Homo sapiens: one gene and its partners. The protein of the gene in region 3 purifies or fractionates together with the protein of the main gene of each other region. This does not show direct contact. Each region holds a gene or a part of one and is shown on either strand. Other genes may lie near its edges.

Evidence for each region.
Region 1: the proteins of ENG (region 3) and ARF4 purify together in Homo sapiens (affinity purification with mass spectrometry; one large-scale study listed by BioGRID and IntAct). This does not show direct contact.
Region 2: the proteins of ENG (region 3) and CCDC12 purify together in Homo sapiens (affinity purification with mass spectrometry; one large-scale study listed by BioGRID and IntAct). This does not show direct contact.
Region 4: the proteins of ENG (region 3) and ZNF185 purify together in Homo sapiens (affinity purification with mass spectrometry; one large-scale study listed by BioGRID and IntAct). This does not show direct contact.
Region 5: the proteins of ENG (region 3) and GTF2H2 purify together in Homo sapiens (affinity purification with mass spectrometry; one large-scale study listed by BioGRID and IntAct). This does not show direct contact.
Region 6: the proteins of ENG (region 3) and EEFSEC purify together in Homo sapiens (affinity purification with mass spectrometry; one large-scale study listed by BioGRID and IntAct). This does not show direct contact.
Region 7: the proteins of ENG (region 3) and CALD1 purify together in Homo sapiens (affinity purification with mass spectrometry; one large-scale study listed by BioGRID and IntAct). This does not show direct contact.

Annotation. Positions count from the first base shown.
Region 1 is NC_000003.12:57,583,845-57,587,344, forward strand, and holds part of ARF4 (ADP-ribosylation factor 4), read right to left. Parts: intron 621-3,500; coding exon 540-620; intron 164-539; coding exon 54-163; intron 1-53.
Region 2 is NC_000003.12:46,921,230-46,924,745, forward strand, and holds the end of CCDC12 (coiled-coil domain-containing protein 12), read right to left. Parts: intron 2,440-3,516; coding exon 2,378-2,439; intron 2,135-2,377; coding exon 2,100-2,134; intron 1,084-2,099; coding exon 1,007-1,083; intron 911-1,006; coding exon 828-910; 3' UTR 501-827; downstream 1-500.
Region 3 is NC_000009.12:127,841,159-127,844,658, forward strand, and holds part of ENG (endoglin isoform 1 precursor), read right to left. Parts: intron 2,088-3,500; coding exon 1,936-2,087; intron 1-1,935. UniProt on the Homo sapiens protein: Vascular endothelium glycoprotein that plays an important role in the regulation of angiogenesis. Required for normal structure and integrity of adult vasculature. Regulates the migration of vascular endothelial cells.
Region 4 is NC_000023.11:152,896,785-152,900,866, reverse strand, and holds the start of ZNF185 (zinc finger protein 185), read right to left. Parts: upstream 2,801-4,082; 5' UTR 2,629-2,800; intron 1-2,628. UniProt on the Homo sapiens protein: May be involved in the regulation of cellular proliferation and/or differentiation.
Region 5 is NC_000005.10:71,036,677-71,040,176, forward strand, and holds part of GTF2H2 (general transcription factor IIH subunit 2), read right to left. Parts: intron 1,806-3,500; coding exon of another isoform or gene 1,754-1,805; exon of another isoform or gene 1,753-1,753; intron 871-1,752; coding exon 831-870; intron 1-830. UniProt on the Homo sapiens protein: Component of the general transcription and DNA repair factor IIH (TFIIH) core complex, which is involved in general and transcription-coupled nucleotide excision repair (NER) of damaged DNA and, when complexed to CAK, in RNA transcription by RNA polymerase II.
Region 6 is NC_000003.12:128,338,481-128,341,980, forward strand, and holds part of EEFSEC (selenocysteine-specific elongation factor), read left to right. Parts: intron 1-2,505; coding exon of another isoform or gene 2,506-2,658; intron 2,659-2,752; coding exon 2,753-3,409; intron 3,410-3,500. UniProt on the Homo sapiens protein: Translation factor required for the incorporation of the rare amino acid selenocysteine encoded by UGA codons. Replaces the eRF1-eRF3-GTP ternary complex for the insertion of selenocysteine directed by the UGA codon.
Region 7 is NC_000007.14:134,947,134-134,950,633, forward strand, and holds part of CALD1 (caldesmon), read left to right. Parts: intron 1-374; coding exon 375-636; intron 637-3,240; coding exon 3,241-3,381; intron 3,382-3,500. UniProt on the Homo sapiens protein: Actin- and myosin-binding protein implicated in the regulation of actomyosin interactions in smooth muscle and nonmuscle cells (could act as a bridge between myosin and actin filaments).

The DNA of each region.
Region 1 (3,500 bases), on a different chromosome or scaffold from region 3:
TTAGAGCATGAAACCCACAAAGAAAAGTTATAAAAACATACAGTATCCCTTACCTGGGTATTCTGGAAGTAATGCTTCCAGAGAGGCCTAATTCTATCTTGACCACCAACATCCCATACTGTGAAACAAATGTTCTTATATTCTACTGTTTCCACATTAAAACCTACAAAGAAAAACAAAAATGACCGCTGTGCAGCGTCATTAAGAAAATAAAACCTTTTATTGTGGAATTTTCTTAGAATAGTGTTTTTAAAGTACTTCTTTTTATTTTTAAAAAATATATTTAAGCCTAAACATCAACAGAGACAAGGCCTCATTATGTTATGCAGGCTGGTCTTGAACTCCTGGGCTCAAGCAATCCACCCGCCTCGGCCTCCCAAAGTGCTGGGATTACAGGCATGAGCCACCACACCCGGCCTGTTTTAAAAGTACTTCTAAGATAATCAACATGCTTAACAAAAAGACAATCTCAAAACTAGACTGTATATATTTCACTTTACAACATATCATGATATAAAGTCATCTGTAAACTTTCTTACCAATGGTAGGAATGGTGGTGACTATCTCCCCTAACTTCAGTTTATACAGAATGGTTGTCTTGCCAGCAGCATCCAATCCAACTAGAAGAAGACATTATAGATTTAAAATCCAGACCAAAAGCACACTCCAAGAAATAATTTTACAATAAATTTATAGTTCAAAACTAGAAGTTGACTGTTCAAGACAACTTCTAAATGAGTTAGAAATGAAATGACCTTATTTCTGATTCCCAAAGGCAACACTTCCTACAGAAAGCCTTTCCATTCTGCTTTCTAGACCAAGAGAGACAGCATGTACTAGTAAAAGGTAACAAGTATGTAGCTGACTTAGGCTCTAATCTCTAGCTTTGCGACAAACTAGTTGAGTGACTTTAGGACACTGAGACCAGAGAAATTAGCCATAAATAAAGGGACTGGATCAGATCATCTAAGATCTCTTCCAATTAAATTCTATGAACTACCAGCATTTTTTGGGGGGTGGAGGGGCAGGGGAGCGGGGGGACGTATTCTCGCTCTGTTGTCCAGGCGGGAGTGAAGTGGCATGATCTCAGCTCACTGTAACCTCCACCTCCCGGGTTCGAGCAATTCTCCTGCCTCAGCCTCCCAAGTAGCTGGGACTACAGGCGCCCACCACCACGCCCGGCTAATTTTTGTATTTTTAGTAGAGACGGGGTTTCACCATGTTGGCCAGGCTGGTCTCAAACTCCTGGCCTCAAGTGATCTGCCAGCCTGGGCCTGCCAATGTGCTGGGATTACAAGCGTGAGCCACCGTGCCCAGCCATACTACCATTTTTAAAAACACAAATTAGAAGTTGATTCAGACAACATGTAAGTGAATAAAGAATTCTTAAGATTTGTAAAAATATTTTCTCTTATTTACAGAGTAAAATTTGGGTAACAGATTTTGATGCTAAGGGGTAAAAAATACACTGGTATAAGTATGTCCTAGTGGTATAACTATGTTCTAATGAACTTAATGTAACTATGTCCTAGTGACCTTATAATGATAATAAAGGAAGATGAAGCCAATTTTACCCCTGCTTAAATCCATTTCAACATTAAATGTGCCAAAATGAAAACCAAAGTCTGATTAACCTGTTATAAAAATGGCCCTATCACATTACCTAATGTAAACAACGAGTTAATGGGTGCAGCACACCAACATGGCACATGTATACATATGTAACAAACCTGCACATTGTGCACATGTACCCTAGAACTTAAAGTATAATAATAAAAGACCCTATCACATTCATCTACAATATAAGTAATATCTAAATTCTTTTTTTTTTTTTTTGAGACAGAGTATCACTCTGTCACCCAGGCTGAAGTGCAATGGTGCAATATCAGCTCACTGCAACCTCCATCTCCCAGGTTCAAGCGATTCTCCTACCTCAGCTTCCGGAGTAACTGGGATTACAGGTGCGTGCCACCACACCCCAGCTAATTTGTATTTTTAGTAGAGACGGGGTTTCACCATGTTGGCCAGGCTGGTCTTGAACTCCTGACCTCGGGTGATCTGCCCGCCTCAGCCTCTCAAAGTGCTGTGATTACAGATGTGAACCACTGTGTCCGGCCTAAATTCTTAAAATGATTCAGTTGAGGCAGAAGTACAAGTAGGGAGGAATGTGTTTGCTTGTGAAAAAAAATCCACACTAGAACAAGAGGCTATACCTCCTTGTAGGGTGACAGTGAAGAACAAATTAAATGCTTGTAAGTATGAATCTCTCAAAACCTGAATATTCTGCAGTGTTTGCTAAAGCCCTCATAAATGAAAGATCAACATCTAATAACCTCATTGAATCTATCATTGTTCTTAGGATATCATATCTGGCCGCCTGGGTTTATCTTATCACAGATTTTTGTATCGATTCAATCAAGTATTGATTTAAGCAAGGACACTTTCTTAATATTTAAATCAAAGCATGACTTAGCACATAAAAGCAATGCTAGTAAGTTAAAAAAGAGCTGAAATTATCTCACTTATCTAATTTACATTCCTATGCAAGTAAGTCTATCTTTTATCAGTTAGTCCAAAACAGAAGCGAAGGCTACAGGCAATTCTGATTCCTTCTACCCTCTTAACAACCCTTTCTACTCTGTACCCTACCAAGAATAACTTTAAGTTCTTTTTGGAGACTCAAGCCTTTTATTCCTTTGTCCTGTAAAACCCTGTTCCCCACTTCGTACTCGGATACAGGTTTATTCCTTCCCAACTACTAGTCAGTGTGATCAGCCCACATCAAGCCCTCATTCATGAGCATAATAATAAAAACCAACTGTTATACAAGTGTTTTATTTTTTGAGCATGGAACATTATCAAAAAAATCAGAAAACATAATTCTAAAAAATACATAAAAAGGAGCTACATTAAAGTTTGGCATCTTTAGTAACAAGATATAAAACAAAGGGGGGTGGCAAAAAACAACTGGATCTTTAAATGGTCCAACAAAGCTGTCTCTTGAAAGCATCAGATTTTTAAGTTAACCAAAATTAACCTTTAAGTTCAAATATGATTAAGCCAAGTCAGAATTGAAACTGAGACGCTGATTAAGAAACACACACACACACGCACACACACAAAACTATGGTACCTGCCAGTTATCACCGGAGGTCCAACTGGACCTCAGATTGTCATTTAAAAACAAGGTAAGGCCTGGCGCTGTGGCTCATGCCTGTAATCACAGTACTTTGGGAGGCTGAGGTGGGCGAATCACCTGAGGCCAGGAGTTTGAGACCAGCCTGGCCAACATGGTAAAATCCCGTCTCTACTAAAAATACAGAAACTAGCTGGATGTGGTGGCATATGCCTATAATCCCAGATACTCTGGAGGCTGAGGCAGGAGACTCGCTTGAACCCAGGAGGCGGATGTTGCAGTGAGCCGAGATCGTGCCATTGCACTACAGCCTGGACAACAAGAGCGGAACTCAGTCTCAAAAAAAAAAAAAAAAAAAAAAAGT
Region 2 (3,516 bases), on a different chromosome or scaffold from region 3:
CTCCCATGCAGGGTCTCTGTCCTAGGGGAGCCACAGTCTAGCTCTGACTGGTGGAGTAGGGAGAGAGGCCGCCTGGGGCTGGGGAGAGTGGGGAAAGCAGTGCCAGCGGCATCAAATCTGGAGTGGCCCTGAGTTGGGGCTTGCCAAGGCCCAGTCTCTCTCACACTGAGGATCCCCAGAGGACCAGGGTGGGAGCCTCTCCAGCTACTCCATAGACTACTACAAGGCCTAGGTCTGGGGGAGGTCTTAAAAGGACTTTCTCAGACCCTGTCTCTATCACCCAAGGATCTTGAGATGACCAGCACTGACCATGGACTGGGCCAGGACTTGGCCGCAGAAGGCAGCCCTGAGTGTTTCCCACCCCTCCGGCCTCAACATGCCCAGCCCAACACAGGGGTTATTCATACATATTAAGTACCAGCTCTGCAGTCACCCTGTCTCCATCCTGTGGAGCCCAAATCCACTGCACCCTCAGACCTAGGAAATATCTGACACATTTCTGCCACACACAGGGGTTTACTTGTTTCTATTTCCAGATTTTTTTTTAGAAAGTTCAAAATATATACATATATACAGACATATGTACATCCACATGTGCAGACACAGGCACGCCCAGAGTTGTTGCTGGTTCTGCCTCCATTCAGAATGGCAGGGGCCACCCAGCAGACAAGGAGCTGACCTCATCCATGGGGGTTTCAGACTTGATGGGCAGGGAGTCTCTGCTCAGAAGCCAAACTGGAGGTGATGGCAAGCCTAGCCCCCATCCCTGCCCAAGACCATCCTCTGCAGGACAGGCCTGATGGGCGAGTGGTGGGGCAGGGCATGCCTCAGTCGGAGTCACAGGTCTTTTGTTCGGTGGCAGCATCCACTGCAGAGGCTAGGCTGTCTTCCTGGCCTTTCAGCCTTTCACCTGGGATGGATGGCAGACAGAAGGGGTGGGGAGGGGCCCGGTGCTTGGGCCACCACCCAGTGGGCAGGACCCCACCTTCCCAGGCACTGCACTTACGGATCAGCTCGGCAATGGCCCTCTGAGTCCGCTTTTTTAGTTTCTCCAGCTTCTTGGCCACATCTCTCTTGAGGTCCCTGGAGCAGGGAGGCAGGGAGAAGCAGGAAGGTGAAGGCTGGCCTGATGTGGCATTGGGTCCCCTCCCCTCTTGCAGCCCTCTGGCATTAGGAGTCATGCTCGGTTGCTGGAGGGGGCTGCCCTGGGGAAGAGGCCAGGACATTCCCCTTCTGTACCCTCCGAAACCCAGCATAAACCATCATTCCCTGTCCCACTGAGGCAGGGGGACTAGCATCACAAACCCACCCAACACAAGGGACTGAGCTAAGGCAAAGGTGGATGGTTTCTCAGAGACCCTCTCTTGCTCTGGTCCTCTGGTCACCATCAGGGAGTGACTTGCTCCTGCCCACTGTGGGCCCTGCTCCTCCTCCAGCCACCGGCCCAGCCCCTCCACTGTGGGCACCCAGAAGTGCACAAGCACTCAGCCCATTCTCTCTGGCTCTGGGTTTCCCAGGACATATGCCCCATGCTTTTGTTTCATCAAATTAAAACAGCTGGTGTTAACTCGACCAAGAATCAGGCGAGAGGGATATAGCTCTACCTCCGGCTCAAGGTGAAGACAGACACAAGCCTCCCGGCCCACAGCACCCTCTCTCCCACTCTCTCTCAGCCTAGCAAGAAGGATGACGACCTCCATTTCACAGAGGAGGAAACCAGGGCCAGAGGGAACAAGCTATGGTGGTAGAACAGGAACAGAAAACTGTGTCTGCCCTTCCCTCCACTCCTGGCCCCCAAAGACAGCGGTTGGCCTTGCTCAAATGGGAGCTCTGGAGCAGATGGGCTCTCAACCTCTCAGGAGGGCCTTCATGAGGGGCCTGCTGCTCCCCGCGCCTGAGCCCCACTCCATCACTCCCCTCTCATCCCACCACTTATGTCCTCCTCAGCACTGGTTTCCAACAGTAGCTATCTCGTGTAACTCTATGTCTGTACTGCCAGTCTCTGCACTGTGACGGCAGGAAGGGCCAAGCCCCAGGCCCATGCTGGCACCAAGAGTCCCCGAGTCAGCCTGCACCCGCCACGCACGGGCAACACTCACCAGTCAGGCTTCCGAGGAGCGAGGTTGGCCAGGTCCTGGGAAGGGAGGAGACACACATCAGGGTGGAGGGGCCACCCCAGGACAAGGGGGAGGGCAGGCTCGAGAAGGAGGGAAATGGGAGAAAGAGGAGGAGGAAGGAGAGGGACGAGAGCAAAGGGGCTGGTGGGAAGGGAATAAAGAAGTGACGAGAAGGAATGGGGGGCAGAGGGAGAGCAAGTGGCGAAGAGAAACAGGACACACAGAAGCAGCGAGGATGCCAGGGTGGTCCAGGCACTCACCACCTCCTCGATGACGGGCTCGGGCTTGGCGGCCTCCAGCTGCTCCTTCACCTTCTCCTCCACTAGAGGGTGCAATTAAACAGAGAAGGCCTGTGGAAAACGCGCTGCCACTCTGCAGGGACACTGCCTACCGTGGCCCCCAGGGAGAGACGGGACCCCAGGCTTCCTTGCTCCCACCTCTGTGTGGCCCGCAACCAGCCAGAGGTGAAGACCCTGCAAAGGCAGCTCTGGAGGAGGGGCCTGGGTTTCCCAGGATGAAGCATTCCCCACAGGCCAAGAATGGGACAGCAGGAGGCAGCCAGCCACAGTCAGTCAGGAAGCATGGATGCTGACAATAACTACAAGACCAGAGAGCTGCCTGGATACATACAAAGTGAGGACTGGCTTCTCACATAATCCCAGGGCTCCTGGGCTCTGAGGATGTCCTCTGGGTCCCGGCCTAGCCAGAGCCACAGGTGGCTTTTCCTCCATCCCACCTCAGGTGTATGCTCCCAAGACCAGGGCACAGGCACCTCCCAGCTCCTCCAAGCTACTGCCAGCATAGTGGGCCTCTGAGCAATCTGACTAGGAGGGTCCTGCCCCTTGGGGACAAATGGCAGAAGCACTAACAACTCTGGGCTCTGTGGGCTTCCTCCAACCCCTGGCATTCAGTGGGCCCATGAGTGCCCTCCTGCTCTGCCTCACCTCCCTCCAGATACAGATGAGAGTTGAGGGCTTCCCCTGACCTGGGCAGTTCCTCACCTCTCTGTCCTGCCTACTATCCCCCAGTGCACCATTACCCTACCAGGTGGGGCCCAAACTACAAAGCAAATCACGGGGAAGTGTCTGGATTTCAGGGATGAAGGAAGTGGGGAAGCAGACCGGGATGTGGCCAAATGGGCAACACTTTACTTTTTCCCAAGATAAATGTATTTATTCACTTGTTACTTATGCAATTCAAAAAAAGTTGATAACAAGGCAAGGCACAGTGGCTCACACCTGGAATCCCAGCACTTTGGGACGCCAAGGCGGGTGGATCACTTGAGGTCAGGAGGAGTTCAAGACCAGCCTGGCCGACATGGTGAAACCCTGTCTCTACTAAAAACACAAAAATTAGCCAGGCGCAGTGGCACACACCTGTAATCCCAGCTACTCAGGAG
Region 3 (3,500 bases):
AGTCTCCTTAGCTTCCAAGATCAGATGAGGTCGGATGTGTTCAGGATGGTGTGGCCGTAACAAGCCATGCCTAATCCCGTAGCAGCTGGAGTGCCCTGGCCCTGTGCCCCGTGAGAATGCACCAGTCCCCTGGATCCTGGCTGGCTATCTACACACCTATCTCCCATAGACCTAGACACCTGCCTAGGGGCCCTCCTCTCACCCTGGCCCAGTATTGAGCAATTAGGGTTGGGGGATCCCAGTCACCCAGAGGAGGCACAGGGACCTGAACATTAAAACAAACAATGCGAACTAACAGAGGCAGTCGTATTTTGAATATCATTACCAAATTTGAAAAAAAAAAATGACAATGCCTATGGAAACCACACAAAGTGTGTTTGGCACTATCTATGATTTGGAAATTATCAAAGCCCACAGTCCTCGTAGAGGGCAGGGCGGTGGGGAGCAGGGTCCCCCGATATTGGTGGTCTGAGCACTTTCTTATCACTGCACAAACGCAAGGCAACTTAACAGTTTTGGGGGCAGATTGGCCATAAGTTTACCCGGAGCTGACACGGCGAAGTCAGTATCGGGACCAAAGGCCACATCAACCAGGTGTAATCTCCAGTCCAACAGGCCAGAAGCCACCTGAACACTGAGATCCACGTGGGGAACCAAGTGGCAGGCTGGCTCTGGCATCCCCAGGGATCTGGTGTGAACTCTGGCCCTGGGCACGTCACTCCATCGCTCTCAGCCAGCCTCAGTTTCCTTCTCCAAGAAGTGGGGATAATAACAGACCCTGGCAGATGAGCCTTGGGAGGCTTAATACATGTGAGATGCTTAATTCCTGGCATAGAGTCGGCCCTAGCACAGTCTCTAGCACATAGCGCTTAACAAAGGTGTTGTTATTATTCAGGACAGACGTATCAGACAAACTGATGGTGGGCTGGGAGTGGGGGTCTCCTGGGGAGAATCGTCTCCAGGCCGGCAGCAGCCTTTGGATCTCTGAGGGTCACAGATATTCAGCAGGGGACATTCCAGGGAGAAAGATCTGGGCTCAACTGAAAAGCACTTCTCTTTTTCTTTTCTTTTTTTTTTTTTTTTTTTGAGACAGGGTCTCACTCTGTCACCCAGGCTGGAGTGCAGTGGTGCAATGTTGGCTCACTGCAACCTCCACCTCCTGGGTTCAAGCGATTCTCCTGCCTCAGCCTCCCAAGTACAGCTGGGATTACAGGCATGCGCCACTATGCCTAGCTAATTTTTGTATTTTTATTTTATTTTTATTTTTTTATTTTTTATTTTTTTGAGACAGAGTCTCACTCTGTCACCAGGCCAGAGTGCAGTGGCACAATCTCAAGCTCACTGCAACCTCCAACTCACTGGTTCAAGCAATTCTCCTGCCTCAGCCTCCCAAGTAGCTGGGATTACAGGCGCTCACCACCACGCCCAACTAATTTTTGTATTTTTAGTAGAGATGGGGTTTCACCATGTTGGCCAGAATGGTCTCGATCTCCTGACCTCGTGATCTACCCGCCTCGGCCTCCTAAAGTGCTGGAATTACAGGCGTGAGCCACTGTGGCTGGCCCAAGAAGCACTTTTCAAAGTCCAAGCTCCCTAGAGAGGAGCTGCATTCTTCTGAGATTCTGTGAGGTCTCCATCATTGGAGGTGCATAAGCAACACTCACCTGGTCCCCCCCACCCATCTGGCTCTTCTCTACTCAGCTCTTCCCACCTGAGTCTTCTGGTGGCACCCAAAAGACTGCCCTGATCCAGACCCTGCCCCTAGAAATGCCACCTCTTATGGGCCCTGTGAGATGCCCACATCACTCTCTTGGCAGGGGGCCTAACGAGGACTCAGCCACTGCCCCAGGGACAGCCACAAGGAAGGCACCCCTCACCCCATCTGCCTTGGAGCTTCCTCTGAGCCCCCACCCGACCCTGCCATGGGACACTCACCGTTGGGAACTCCAGGAAGAGGACATGGACTTCAAGGATGGCATTGGGGGCCTGAGCCACGCAGCCCTTCGAGACCTGGCTAGTGGTATATGTCACCTCGCCCCTCTCGGGGCCCACAGGCTGAAGGTCACAATGGACTGTTTCTGCAAGACCTGTTGGAGAAACATCCGGAAAGAGGCCAGGTGAGAATAAGGTGATGACAATGACTCCTACTTTCCAAACGTCTCCTAGGGACTTGACATGAGCTAACGGCTTTCCTGCATCATCACAGCCACCTTATGAGGTGGATATCATTATATTCGTTCCATGGATTAAAAAAAACCAAGGCTAGGAGAGGAAACGTCTCCTGCCCAAGGTCACAGCGCTACTACGTATAGGGTCGATGAATAGAAGGACACCCAGCTAAATTTAAATTTCAGATAAACAATGAGTGCATTTTTTTAAGTATTAGTATATTGCAAATATTGCATGGAACGTACTTATACTAAATTTTCATTGTTTATCTGAAATTCGGATTTCACTGGGCCCCATGTATATATGTGTGTGTGTATATATACATACACACACATATACATAGATCTACATATATACATACATATATACATATATAGATATACATATATACACCCACACATCCACATACATATATATATATATATATATTTTTTTTTTTTTTTTTTTTTTTTTTTTTTTTTGAGATGGAGTTTTGCTCTTCTTGCCCAGGCTGGAGTGCAATGGTGTGATCTTGGCTCACCGCAACCTCCGCCTCCTGGGTTCAAATGATTCTCCTGCCTCAGCCTCCCAAGTAGCTGGGATTATAGGCATGCACCACCACACCCAGCTAATTTTGTATTTTTAGTAGCGATGGGGTTTCTCCATGTTGCTCAGGTTGGTCTCGAACTCCTGGCCTCAGGTGATCTGCCCACTTCGGCCTCCCAAAGTGCTGGGATTACAGGCGTGAGCCACCGTGCCCGGCCAGCCTCCTATATTTTTATTTTTTATTTATTTTTAAAAATTATTTTTTATTATTTATTTTATTTTATTTTTTTGAGACGGAGTTTTGCTCTTGTTGCCCAGGCTGGAGTGCAACAGTGTGATCTCGACTTACTGCAACCTCTGCCTCCTGGGTTCAAGTGATTCTCCTGCCTCAGCCTCCCGAGCAGCTAGGATTACAGGCATGCACCACCATGCCTGGCTAATTTTTTGTATTTTTAGTAAAGATGGGGCTTCTCCATGTTGGTCAGGCTCGTCTTGAACTCCCAACCTCAGGTGATCCGCCTGCCTTGGCCTCCCAAAGTGCTAGGATTACAGGCATGAGCCACTGCGCCTGGCCTATTTTTTATTTTTTTGAGACAGACTCTGCTCTGTTGCTCAGGCTGGAGTGCAGTGGCAAAATCATAGCTCACTGCAGCCTCAGCCTCAACCTCCCAGGCTCAAGTGATCCTCCCACCTCGGCCTCCTGAGTAGCTGGAACTATAGGCATGCACCACCACATCCAGCTAATTTTTGCATTTTTATAGAGATGAGGTTTCACCATGTTGCTCAAGCTGGTATTGAACTCCTGG
Region 4 (4,082 bases), on a different chromosome or scaffold from region 3:
AAGGGCCGAACTTTGCACAACTGGATGGTGGCTGAGCTGGGGTTTGAACCCAGGCTGACCTCTGAGCCATTCTCTTAACCACTAGGCTATGAAGGTGCCACCCTCACCTGCCACACACCTGACCAGGTGTGGGACAGTTCAGCCCCTCCTCCTCTTCCCGGCCTTTGGAAGCAATGATGGCAACCTCTCCTGAGCATCTCTCAGGGACTGGTCCCCTGATGGCACTGCCCTTGTCTTGGCATCAGCCGGTTCACTATGGGCACAGTGGTAACGAATGCAAAGTCCCTGGACTGACCCTAAACATGAGAGCCCAAAGGCCCGGACTGCAAGGGGTTGCCGCACTGGAGAGCAGCTCTCCTCTCTGGCACTGGTCCTGTCCCATGCCGCCAGGGACTGGCAGTGGGGGCAGCCTCAGGGCTCAGCAACAGAAGGAAAGCTTGTGTTACATGTGACCTGGCACCTTATAAGTTGTGGCTTGAAGCAAAACCCGCACCAAAGGGGGCAGTCACCTGTGGAAGCTTGAGTAGGGAAGGAGGAAGGCAGGCTTCTGGCTTCCAGAATGCACCGAGCCAGAATTGGGGGAGTTTGCTTGGCATGCAACTGAAGACAGTTCAGGGAACAAGTGCCGATGCCTATCGTGGCCAGGTCCTGGGCCCAGTGCTAGGGACCCAGAGTCCCTGCCCTGCCAGATCTCAGGAGGCCTTGGGGACACTGGGCAGGAAGACAAGGAGCACAAGTCAGGCTGAGGGAGGCTGAGCTGAGGCGCTGGCTGCCCCTGGCATCACTGGCCTCACGTGGGAAAGGCTTTTTCTGGAGTCTGGACTTGAGCTGAGCAGGAAGTGAGGTGGACAAGCACTGCTGCCATTTGGATTCAGATGGCAACTTCTTACTGACAGATGGCCTCTCTGTCACTCCTCAGGGCAAGGCATGGAGCTGATTTCTCTGTGGGCCCCCATATGCAGGAGCTCAGCAAGAAGTGGTTTATGATCTTTCAGGAGTAACGGGGAGGTTAGACTCCAGCAGCTCCAAAGGACGTGCGGGCCTTGACCTGGTGGCTGCCGAGCTCCTCCTCCTGCTTCCAAGCCCTTCGCCTCCAGGAAGCCTTCCCTGATCTTCCCAGCCAGGGGTGCCTCGCTGCTCCAGGACTGAGGAACCCCTAATGTTTTCATGCTACTCGGAGCTGCAACATCCTAAGTGGTCCTGGGCCACCTCTGTTGCTTGAGTCATGAGTGTCCAGAGGATGGAAATGAACAGATCTTGAGCACCTGCTGCGTGTCTGGCCCTGCACTGAGTGCCTTCCATCAGCTCCACACGGCTGAATGCACAGCATCCAGCCAGGGGCTGGGAATTGCTGGAAGGAGGGGCAGGTGAGAGGGATCTGTTCCTTCCCATCCTGAAGTGGCCTGGGAGCGATGAGGGGAACAGCGGAGGCACCAAGGCCTGCCAGAAGGCTGGCCCCTCATCTGTGCATCTGTGTCTTGGCCACTTGCTGGCCTCTGAGCTGCCCCTTGTTTTTCAGATGAGGAGCGGAGGCCCTGGGAAGGCAGGACCTCTGCAGCTCTGTTCAGGCCTATCAACCTGTGCACCCCTGCCTCCCGCCCCCAGCCAGGTACGACAGCCAGAAGTCTGAAGGGCCATGAGACCAAGGCAGGACTTAGTCCAGGTACTGAAGCCTCAAGCACTGCTGGATGGGGTGTGAGAGGCCCTCTCTCGGGGCTCACAGCTTTGGGGCCTCCCATGATGCCAAGGCTTCGTGCCGACGGCTCAGCAAGAACACAACTCCTACCATGCCTCAGATGTCCCAAAGCCGGGACACACCCACCACCTACTTTATCTGAGTCCCCAGCAGCCCTGGGTGGGAGGCAGCTTGACGTGTCACCCCCTTAAACCGACAGAGTACCCAGGTGTCCCCAGCTCAGAAGTGGCAGATCAGGCAGGAGCACCTGAGCTTTCGGCCTTTTTGTAAGGCAAGGTATCCCTCTGCCTTTCCAAAGAGGACAGACTCTTGGCTCCCTCTGCCCCCATCAAAACAATCCAGCCACAGAGCTGGTGCAGTGCCGATCCTGTCGATAACACCCAGTGACACCTGATTCGGCGCCTTCTGTCTGAGTGTGAGCAGCCACCATCCTCATGGCCCTCCCCAAGATTGCCCTGTACCCAGCACATGCACCTCACAGGCCCCAGGGCGATTGAGGGGATCCTCTGGGTGAGCCAGCCTCTGGGTCTCAGTTTCCTCATCTATAAAATGGGCACAGGGGGACGGAGGGATATGAGATTCCCTGATTCTTAAAGGCCTGCAGTCAACTCTCAGAGCATCCTGGCCCCTCGCCGTTTACTAACAATTAAACCGTGTCTTTCCTAAAGGGCAAGACAGAGGGATCAGGCTGGCAAGGGGGACACTTGCCTCTGTAGGGGACGCTGGCCTCCTCTGCCTGTCAGTCTTTTCACTCACAGCGAAAACCAGAAATCCACTGACTCCCGGGGGGAACCCGAAGAGAGATGCTTGGAGCTGGTAAGGGTTATGGATGGGGAAACTGAGGCCCTGACTTGTCCCCAGCTGGGCACGGACTGGGTGCCCCCCACTGCCTCCAAGCAGGGCCGCATCCAATGGCGACTCGACAGCCCTACCTGGCACCGGTGCCCGGCTCGTGGGGCGGGTGGAGGGTCGGGCAGTCGCAGGGCGCGGGCTCCCTCGGGTGGACGGCGCCCGGCCGGGCCGGGCCGGGCCGGGGAGGCAGGCGCGGGGCGCGGGGCGCGGTGCACAGCGGGGAGCGCGCAGGGAGGCGAGGAGGCGCGGACTGGGCTCCGCCCGCAGGAGAACAAACAGGTTTTCTCCGGCCGCCCGGAGCCTCGCCCCTCGCCCCTCCCCTCGGCCGGCCCCTTCCTCTGCCCCTCCTGGGGTAGGTAGAGGCGCCTGGCACATTCCGCACATTCTCCCGCCAGCGTCCTCCGCCCGCCCGCCCCTTCTCGGCCCCGCCCCGCGGGGCTGCTGGAGAAATCAAGTCTGGGGCTCCCCTTGTCGAGCACGGGGCGAGCTCCAGAAGGCTCTGCCGTGATGGAAAACTTCCAGGCAAATTCCTCCGGGCCCGTGGCCCCCAGGCCGGGAAGCCTCCGCCACGTGAAGGGCCCCCGCTCCTAGTTGCGCGATCTGGCCCCGGCACAGGGCCAACGACTTCCACAGATGCTGTCGGGTTAATTCAGTCGAGAACTACCGTTCCTAGATCCATTTTACAGATGGAGATCCCAGACAGGGGCGGGGAGGGGGGCGGGGGGCTGGCGGCTGAGATCATCCAGGAAGTCCTGCAGGCAGGAAAGGAGGAGAAGAGTGAGGGAGCCGCTCATCGTGGAAGGCCATCCTGGGACGGACCCGGGGCTCACAAGGCACAGCAAACGGGGCTATCTCCCAGGCTGGGCGACGAGATACAGCCAGACTCCCAGAGCCAATGCGGTTTGATGTACCTGTGTCACGCGTTGGTGCTCACCGAGTGCTTTATTGTGTGCAAGGCCCTGGGCTGGGGCTAAGGATGGAGAGAGCATGGAGGAAAGACCCCTCACCCCACGGCCTCCCAAACAGGGAGACAATTAAGCCAGCCCAAGAAATGGCATGGACTTGGCCAGGAGTTGGCCTACCAGGGTGGTAGGCTCAAAAGAATGGACCAGCTGCTTCTCCTTCATCAAGGCCTGCCAATGTGGTGTTTCCATGGCCCTCCAGTCCACCCACTTCTCCCTGTGCCTGCTGCCACCACCCTAGTCCAGACCTGGCCCCGAAGACCAGCCTCCTTGCTGGTGTCCCCCTGCCTCTGGTCTTGCCTTCCTTTCCCTCAGTCTCTACACGGAGGTCAGGTTAAAAGTTCACGTGTGTCAATATGATCAGGTGCTCTCCTGCTTGCAACTCCTCCATGGCTTCCCATTGCTCTCAGGGTAAAAGCCAGACTCCTTGAGACGACCTATCCCTGCAGGTCCAGCCACTCTTCCCTTTGTTCAATACATTACAGCCACACTGGCCTTTTTCCATTGCCTTCTGAATACATCACATGGCGCTCACCTTGGGGTGTTTGCTCCTGCTCCTCGGACTCCCTAAA
Region 5 (3,500 bases), on a different chromosome or scaffold from region 3:
ACTTGGGAGGCAGAGGTTGCAGTGAGCCAAGATTGCATCACTGCACTACAACCTGGGTGACAGAGCAAGAGTCTGTCTCAGAAAATAAAACCAAAAAACTGTCAAATGATTCAAAAAGTGGTTCCAGTTAAGAGTAAACTACTGATGTCAAAGAGGTATATAAAACTTAATAAAATTACTTTATAAATTGTGACAGTGGAAGAGCAATACTTCTAATTATTATTTTATATAATATATATAGTTTTAAATATGAACATGTAACTAAATTAAAAATTAAAGCTAGACAGTGATCCATATTATTTACATCTATACAAATTTATTTATTAAAGTTGGCCCTCTTCAAAATTTAAAAAAGTATTTTCTCATTGGCATAATGGAAGAATCACCTATTATCTGTGGCCACCTTAAACAATTTCAATGTGTTATCACACAGCTTAAAGTATAATATGAAGAAAATATTTTAAATACTTTCAGACTAAATGCAGTTTAGCTTGAAAGCTAAAGACAAATTACATGTTTTACAAGGGTGTACCAAAGTAGACAAAACAATCAAAGAATTTAAAAAAAGAGGAAAAAAATTAAAAAATTTTTAATAAAAAGTTTTAAAAAGATGAATTACAAAATACTTTATAGCAAAAATTAGAATGCAGAATAACAAAACTACTATTTAAACTATTTTGTTCCTATTTTACCTTCACCTATTGTCATTATCTTTACAAGAAATAAACTGATATGAGCCTGGTCTTTAACAACCTGTTGAAAACTTATAGTACCATTGATTTCAATATTTCTTGTACATTACTTAATATTTAGAAAGCCAAAGAACTTACATGTTGGTCTTTCAATTCCCCCTGACATCCATAACAAAATCTGAAAAAAAAGTTTAACAATGTTTTTTCTTAGAATTTACTCATTAAAATAGTTCAACAAAATCTCACTAACTAGAATCCTTTAATTAATATGTACTTGTCTTTACACATGACTTTCAGGAAAAAGAGTTAAGAATACCAATAGGCCAGGCACAGTGGCTCACGCCTATAATCCCAGCACTTTGGGAGGCCGAGGCGGGTGGATCACCTCAGGTCAGGAGTTCGTGACCAGCCTGGCCAACATGGCGAAACCCCATCTCTACTAAAAATACAAAAATTAGCTGGGCATGATGGCAGGCGCCTATAATCCCAGCTACTCAGGAGGCTGACGCAGGAGAATCGCTTGAACCCAGGACACGGAGGTTGCAGTGAGCCGAGATGGTGTCATTGCACTCCACACTGAGCAACGGGAGCAAAACTCTGACTCACAAAAAAAAAAAAAAAAAAAAAAAAGAATAGCAATAATTAAAAAAAAAATTCCACAGTATATACAAGGTCATCTGACAGCCCAAAATTTAGTTTTTATTTTCATTAAGGTTAACTGTGAGCATGCTTTATTTTTCTTTGTTTTCGAGTCAGGGTCTTGCTTTGTCTCAAAGGCTGGAGTGCTGAGGTGCTATCACGGCTCACTGCAGCCTCAACCTCCTGGGCTCAAGTGATCCTCCTGCCTCAGCCTCCTGAGTAGCTGGGACTACAGGCATGTATCTCCATGCCTGGCTAATTTTTTATTGAGGCAGGGTCTCGCTATATTGCCCAGGCTGGTCTCGAATGCCTGGGCTCAAGCAATCCTCCTATCTTGGCTTCCCAACGTGTTAGGATTACAGGCATGAGCCACCATGCCCAGCCAGAAGCACTTTCTAACGTTTGTTTGATAGTCACTTACTCTAATAAGTGCTACTTTGTGATTCTTCACAGTTTTTGGCTATGAATCTCCAACTATGAAAGAAGAGAATTTAATTATCTTTCAATCATCTTGAACCCAGTAATGCATAAATATTTAACTAGTGTCATTCTCAATTCTTTCTACATAGTGAAGTCTTCCTTTTGGATAGAACAATAATCAATGTTTAGTTTACTATGCCTATAAAAATATTCTCAGCTAAGCCATAAGTTTTCCCCTATTTAAAACATTTTTTTTTTCCTGGAAATACTGTGTTGCTATTCCCAAGGTTAGTTTCCTATATAATTGACACTAATTCAGGCCCAATCTTCTCCGGAATAGTCTAACTGTCCTCTCGATATGTTCAAATACATCAGGAGTTCTGCAGTTTTCATCCCCTTGGTGATCTCTCTCCTGGAGCATCCTGACTGTCTCCAAACTGGACGGTTCCCCATATGTGACACACAGGTATCATTCTGGAATTTCTCCTTACCATCATCCTAGGCCGTTCTTCAGCCTGTTTTGAATTAGATACATATTACTAGATCCCATGTCATTCTCCTTCTCAGTTCCTTTGAATCACCTACCTCTTCCAGACCTTCCCCAGAAAAATCTCTTTTTGAGACCTTACAAGTCTGAAAATGTCTTTATTCTACCTACACTTAACTGATAGTTTGGCTGGGTATCTAAGTTGGTAACAATTTTCACCACAAACTTTGAAGGTGACTGCTCCCTCTCTGCATCCGGTGTTGCTAATGAGAAGCCAAACAATTTTAATTCCAGATCCTTTGTGTGTGACCTAGTTTTTCCTCTCTGGAAATGTTTAGGGTTAATGGTTTATTGTGTATTCTGAAATTTCACAATTATGGGGTCTGCCTTCCTTCAATACGTTAGGCACTTGGCAGTCCCTTTCTTTTATCTTCGTTGCAGAGATGAGGTCTTGCTGTGTGACCCAGGCTGGCCTGGAACTCCTGGCCTCCAGTGATCCCCCAGTCTCAGCCTCCCAAAGTGCAAGGATTAGAGCTATGAGCCACCCTTCCCAGCCAACAGGCCCTTTCAATCTAGAAAGTTCTGTCCTTCAATATAAAATTTCTTTGAACTATGTCTTTGATGATTTTCTATCCTACTTTTTTTCTTTTTTTCTCGTATCATTCTCATATTGGACCTTCTGGATAATTCCACCAGTGAATATTCTTATCTTTACTCTCCTATTTGAACCTCTTTATTTTACTCCTTTTATTGTACTTTCTGGAATATTTCTTCAACTCTATCTTCTATAGTACTGGGTTTTTCATTTTTACTACATTTAACCTCAACCATAAGCAAATAAATACCAAGCTAAAACAATGAGACTTTTTTCTTTTTCTTTTGCCTGTGAGTTTTGGCCAATATAAAAAAGTTTCATAATACCTAATGTTGGCTAAATGTGGGAAAACAATAAATGAAACTTCTTTGAAGAACAACTTTACAATATCTATCAAAATTCACAAAACATGTAAAACTCTTGACTCAGTAATTTTACCTCTAGGAATTTACCATGCATTTATACTTGTACAAATGTTCAAAAATATAGATATAAGCATTATTTGTTAATAGCAAAAAAAGAAAATCTTAAATATCCAACAGGAAGCAATTGATTATATAAACCATAATTATACCTGAAATATGCAACAATTTCAAAAACAACATTGATCTAGATATGGTGATATTGAATGACTTCTAAATGATTTAAGTGTGAAAAGCAAGATGGA
Region 6 (3,500 bases), on a different chromosome or scaffold from region 3:
ATGGTCAGCTGTGTCTGGAGTTATCAGAGAAGCCCTTCTAGGAGGTCCATGGGAGCAGGGGTTAGGGACGAATGGGAATTTGCCAGTGGAAGAAATCCCAGGGAGCAGCCTCAGGGGCAAAGCACAGAGACATTCAGAAGCACAGCATTTACAAGGATTCATTCAAGAGTCCCTTGGCTACGTTTTCAGGGTTGGGGAGAATGTGGGGCCGAAAAGGCTGTGGAGTTGGGCTGCATGGTGGAGGCTTCCTGGTGGCTGAGCTAAGGAGTGGGGGCTCAGCCCTGTGAGTGAGGCTTTTCAGCAGATTGCCTTGTGGGGCGGTGGAGGGGGTACCAGGAGACCGCCACCCATCACAGGGAGTCCCCATAGAATTCCAGCTGACCAGAGGATCTTCCTGCTCGTGGCAGGACCATGACAAGCTTTGAAAGCCATGAGGTAGACGATGGGAGCCCACAAAGGAGGTGGTGACAAACAATTGCTTTATCAGAGAAACATTTTAGAAAGCCGCACAGGCTGCTGCAGGCGCCTGGGAGGGAAGAGTTGTGACCTGGGCCCCACCTCACTGGGCAGACGACGCTTAGTGTAAGGTGATATTCTCCAGTGACTCTGAGTAATGTTCCCAAAAATCTCATTCTCCTATTGCCTTTTCAGACCATTTCAGAGATGTTTTCTGTTTCTTTGTGATTGATCTTGGCTGTGGCTTTTGACACTGTGCGTCTCACTTTCTCTGCCCCCTGACCTCTGGTTAGGTAGTTAATGATCTTTAAACAAACACTTGAGTATTATGGCTCTCCAGGAAAGGTCCTGGGCTCATGGGCCATTAGCAACACACTCTCCCTTTATCCAGGGAGAAAATGAGTGTTCGTACACCCTGACTCGGTAGACAGGGATGCTTGCAACCTAAGTGTCAAAATTCTCTTTAGTTTAACTATTTTTGATGGCAGGTCTTCTGAAATATGTTACATATTTCTCTGCTTCAAATCCATGAACAGTTTCCTCTCATCTCAGAGACAGTGGATCATAGGTAGGAATGTTTGTTCATTTCAGGAACTTTTATTGGAGACTTTTCTATGTCTGTTCCTGATTTACAAACTGTGAATGCAGAAATCTGCCCAGTATAGTAGTCAGTGATATTTTAGAAACAGAGATAAGATCAGGTTACTCCTTTGCCTAAACTCCTCCAGTGACTTCCGGGCCTTGCACTCTACTGTGGGGCCCGAGCCTTGACCTCTGTGTTAGTCCGTTTTCACGCTGCTGATAAAGACATACCCAAGACTGGGTAATTTATTTTTTAAAAAAAAGAGGTTTAATGGACTCACAGTTCTGCGTGGCTGAGGAGGCTTCACAATCATGGTGGAAGGCGAAAGGCACGTCTTACATGGCACCAGGCAAGAGAGAGAATGAGAGCCAAGTTAAAGGGGTTTCCCCTTATAAAACAATCAGATCTAGTGAGACTCATTCACTACCAGTATGGGGGAAAGCACCCCTACAATTCAATTATCTCCCACCAGGTCCCTCCCACAACACATGGGAATTAAGGAAGCTACAATTCAAGATGAGATTTGGATGGGGACACAGCCAAACCATATCAGCCTCCCTCCCTGCTGTCTCCCTCCCCACCCTTGCTGTAGCCCTCCTGCCTCGGTGTATTCCCAGACTCACCAAGCTACTGCCCTCTTAGGGCTTGCACTTATCAGTTGCCCCATTTAGAGCTGTCTTTCTGTGGGTCTTCACACAGCTGTCTGCTTCTTATGCTAAGGTCTTAGCTCAAATTCACTTCTTCGAGACCTTTACCCCACCCAGGCCTTCTCTATCACATCACCTGGCCTTGTTTTCTTTATAGCATATGTTGTCTAATATAGTCATATAATATTAATGTAGATTAATATTATATAATTATATTAATATATATTTGCATGCATGTAATTTATATATTAATTTTATATTGATATGAATTGAATTAATATATATAATTTTTCCTATATAGGTAATTTTGTTGTTGCTGTTGTTTCAAGATATTAAGCTCTTTGGAAACAGAGGTCACTGTATTTCTTCCCCTAGAACAGTGCCTGGCACACAATAGGCACTCTGGGAATATGTGTTGAATGAATGAAGAGAGATCCTGCCCTAGGCTACCCACAAGCCAGCAGGCAGCAGATACACAATAGACAGTGACCATGCAGCAGGCTGTGGGATTCAGAGGGGCTGGGTTACCACTAAGGAGTCAGGGTCAAGTTCTGCCACTGGGAGTTGGGACAGGCTTTCCAGAGCAGTGGTGTTTGTCCCGGGCTTTAGAGGGCAAATGGGCACAGCTTGGCCAGCTGAGCAGCTGGGGAGGCCATTCTTGGGGGAGGAGGCAGGCAAACCTGGACAGAGGGCTGGAAAATGCTAGCATGATTGATGGAAGGGAGGAACTTGGAGGGACTGGAGCCTGGATTGGAGCAGGGGTGAAGGGAACTAAGGTAGTCAGGGATTTGGCTGCTATGACCCCTGCCTTTCCCCCAGAAGAACAGTGAGACTTGGAGAGTGGGGCCCTGGCCCTGCTTTGCTGGCGGCCCTCGGCCTTGTGCTTTCAGTGTGGTACCTGCTCTGGTCCAGAAGAGTGTGCCTGGGCCCCAGACCCCCCTTGGCTGGTCCTCACGGTGCCTGCAGGTGGTGGTAAGCACAGGATTCTCTAGCTGCAGCTCCCCTCTCCTCCCCACAGCCCCGAGGCTTGTTGGTTTCATGTGCTCTCTTGCTTACTCCCCATCAGGTGGTGAAGAAGGTGAAGTCCATGCAGATGTTCCACATGCCCATCACTTCAGCCATGCAAGGAGACCGGCTGGGCATCTGCGTCACCCAGTTTGACCCTAAGCTGCTGGAGCGCGGGTTGGTGTGTGCCCCCGAGTCCCTGCACACTGTCCATGCGGCCCTCATCTCTGTGGAAAAGATACCGTATTTCCGGGGGCCCCTGCAAACCAAGGCCAAGTTCCACATTACAGTGGGCCATGAAACAGTCATGGGCCGGTTGATGTTCTTCAGTCCTGCTCCAGATAACTTTGACCAGGAGCCTATACTGGACTCTTTCAACTTCTCTCAAGAATACCTTTTCCAGGAGCAGTACCTGTCCAAGGATTTGACACCAGCAGTGACAGACAATGATGAGGCCGACAAGAAGGCCGGCCAGGCCACAGAGGGCCATTGTCCTCGGCAGCAGTGGGCCCTGGTGGAGTTTGAGAAGCCCGTCACCTGCCCTCGGCTGTGCCTGGTGATTGGCTCCAGGCTAGATGCGGACATTCACACCAACACGTGCCGGCTAGCCTTCCATGGCATCCTGCTCCACGGGCTAGAGGACAGGAACTACGCCGACAGCTTCCTGCCCAGGCTGAAGGTGTACAAGCTGAAGCACAAGCATGGCCTTGTGGAGCGGGTGAGCATGCCCTTGCCTGGCCCCACACCCCTTCCCTTCTTGCTCGGGCAGCTGGGATCCATGGCCTGACATCTGTGATGAGAGCCAGAAA
Region 7 (3,500 bases), on a different chromosome or scaffold from region 3:
CTCTTCAAGACCTTGCTTTCCATTCTTTTAGAAGTGTATCAGAAGTGGGATTGCTGGATCACGTGGTAGTTCTCTTGTTGATTTTTTGAGGAACCTCCATACTGTTTCCATAGCAGCTGCACAACTTTACAATCCCATTTTACAGTGCATATTTGTCCCATTTTACAGCTGAGGAAACGAAGCACAAGTGGAAGAGCAGAGGCTCCTGGACTCTGTGATTCCGGGCAGACCCCTTCCCCAGCCTACCCCCTGGGCTAATGAGAGGCAGTGGGTATTTAGTCGGGGATGCAGAAGCCGCAGACCGACCTCCCCTTCCTCCAGGGAGACTACAGGCAAAAGCATGTAAACCCCTTTCCATTGCCCCCCAACCACAGCCGCCCTGGAGGGAGGGCCAGCGTGGACACCAAGGAGGCTGAGGGCGCCCCCCAGGTGGAAGCCGGCAAAAGGCTGGAGGAGCTTCGTCGTCGTCGCGGGGAGACCGAGAGCGAAGAGTTCGAGAAGCTCAAACAGAAGCAGCAGGAGGCGGCTTTGGAGCTGGAGGAACTCAAGAAAAAGAGGGAGGAGAGAAGGAAGGTCCTGGAGGAGGAAGAGCAGAGGAGGAAGCAGGAGGAAGCCGATCGAAAACTCAGAGAGGAGGTAAGGCGGGCGCTAGCCCACTGAGAACGTTGCCCGGGAAAATTCCCTAGTGCCGTGCGGCTGTTCTTTTGAGCATGGGCTCTCAAAAATATTTTTTTAAGAATAATAAACTTACCATGTGCTAGGTACTGTTTTATAACTTGTAGATGTATTAATTTGTCCACTGCTTCTAAGAACTCGCTGACCTAGGTACTAATCCCCATTTTACAGATGAGAAAACTGAGGCACAGAGAGGTTTTGTTTTTGTTTTTGTTTTTGTTTGTAACTTTCCCAAGGTCTCCCTTGAGTCTGCCTGACATGCAGGAGGAGCCCCATCATTAAAACCCTTTACTGCCTCTCAAAAAGGAAAAGTTAGAAAGCTGAAAAGGATGAAAGGTCTGCAAATTAGTTACCAGAATGAAGTTATGGTTTTCTAATAGTTGGAGAGTTTTTATAGAGAAGATTTTTTTAAATCTTTTTTTTTTTTTAATGAGCAAGTAAGTACATTAGAATATAAAGAGGCAGGGACAGTATCTGCGTTGTTCATTACTGTATACCCAGGACCCCATACCGTGCCTGACATGCAGGAAGAGCCCCATCATTATAAACAGATGGATTTGTTTCATCTTTTAAGACAGAGCTAAAAACAGCAGATAGAGTTACAAGGAGGAACATTTTGGCTCAGCATATGAAATAATGTTTAACCAACTACAACTTACAGTACTACAGTTTACAAAGTGCATTCTTTCATTTCATCCTGAGGTACATCGTTCTCATTTTATGGGCAAAGAAACCAGGAATCAAATAGTTTGAGTGACTTATTTGAAGATTCTTGACTAATAAATGGTAGAATCAGTAAGGAGACCCCGCTTTTCCAACTCAGAGCCCAGAGCTTTTGAGATAGCGATCTCCCATCATTCAAAATATGAAGAAAAAAAAAGACTTTCAATGGCATTTTGACAAGGATCCTATGCAAAATTTTCCTGAACTGTATGGAAAATTTGGATACATTATTTTGAGGTCTCTTTTAACTCCAACTTTCAATGAGCCAATGACCTTTGGTTGGGAAGTATGGGAAGTAATCAGGATGATAGAGTTTGGGGGTTAAACACACCCCAGGCTTTTTTTTTTTTATTGTTTTTTTAGACATAGTCTTGCTCTGTCACCCAGGCTGGAGTGCAGGAATGCAGTGGTGCAATCTCGGAACACACCCAGTCTTCTATCCTAACTCTGTCACTAACAAGCTGGGGCCTTGGGAAAACTGGACTACTCTGTGTCTTCTTTTCCTTATCTGTGAAATAATATCTACTTTGCAGGATTCTTCCAATAATTTAATAGATCATTGTGCTCCCAGTGCCTGGCACATTCTAGGCACTCAAAAATTAGTAGGTATCATTATTGCCATCATTGTTATTATGATTATTATTCAGAGGAGGAGAGTATCAGGAAAGGCTGAAGAGAAATCACGAAGTCTTAGAACTGGATTGGACCTAGGAGATTATTTGGGCTAAACTACCAAACACAGGATCCTTCTGTGACATCCTCTGACAGATGAACATCTAGTCTCTGCTTGAGAACATGCAGTGATAATGATCTCACAGCTTAAGAACTACCAAAGACTGCATTAAATCTCTCAGAAAATCAAGTTGTGCAACTTGATCAGAGCCCTGATAGAGAAGACAGAGTATTCTAGACTAGGAATGAAGACACAGAGGGGTTAATGAGACAGTCTGTAAACATTTGCAATTGCACTACCATGGTTCAACGTCTAGAGCATTTCAGGTTTGTCAAACCATCTAAAATTATATATTCACTTGAAGCGGGGAGCAACCATAAAATCACCTCTTGTACCATCTGGCAAATATAGTACCACAGATTTAGATAGCTTTTCACATAAGTTATTCATTTGTCTTCACAACTCTCCTAGGATGTAGGTAGAAGGAATATTCATATCCCTTTTACATATACAGAAGTGTGAGGTCATTGTTAATGACCCACAGGATGGTGGTGATTATGTATCATCCTATGGGAAATCATCATAATGAGTGTTAGTCTAAGCCAGGGGTGTCCAATCTTTTGGCTTCCCTGGGTCACATTGGAAGAAGAATTGCCTTGGGCCACACATAAAATACACTAACACTAATGATCGCTGATGAGCCAAAAAAAAAAAAAATCACAAAAAGGTCTCATAATGTTTTAAGAAAGTTTACGAATTTGTGTTAGGCTACATTCAAAGCCATCCTGGGCATGATGTGGCCCCTGGGCCATGGGTTGGACAAGTTTGGTGTAAGCATTTTACATGTGCTATCTCACTGAGCCCTCACGAAAGCCCTAAAAAATGAGTACTATTGTTATCCCTGTTTTACAGATGAAGAAACTGAGCCACAGAGCAGATAAATAACATGGCCAAGGTCAGGCAGTTGGAAAGTAGCAGCACCAGAATGCAAATGCAGGCAGCTCGACTCCAGCTCTCAGGCTAAACCTCTGGTGACCACCTAGAAGGGGAGTGTCCAGCCTGCGGCCTGAGTCTGCTGCCTCTCCAACTGTGCTCTCTCTCCTACAGCACTCTTCCCTTTGGCTGTGAAGCTGGTACTGATGCCTCGTTATTTGTTCTTTCTCTCTTAGGAAGAGAAGAGGAGGCTAAAGGAAGAGATTGAAAGGCGAAGAGCAGAAGCTGCTGAGAAACGCCAGAAGATGCCAGAAGATGGCTTGTCAGATGACAAGAAACCATTCAAGTGTTTCACTCCTAAAGGTTCATCTCTCAAGGTATTTTTTTCCCCAGAAAACTTCTATTAGAATATGATAGAGACTGGATTTTAGCCCCTTGTTTAGTTATTGATTATACAGGGCCTTTGTTCATTTATCTTTTTGCTATCCTTCCAAGT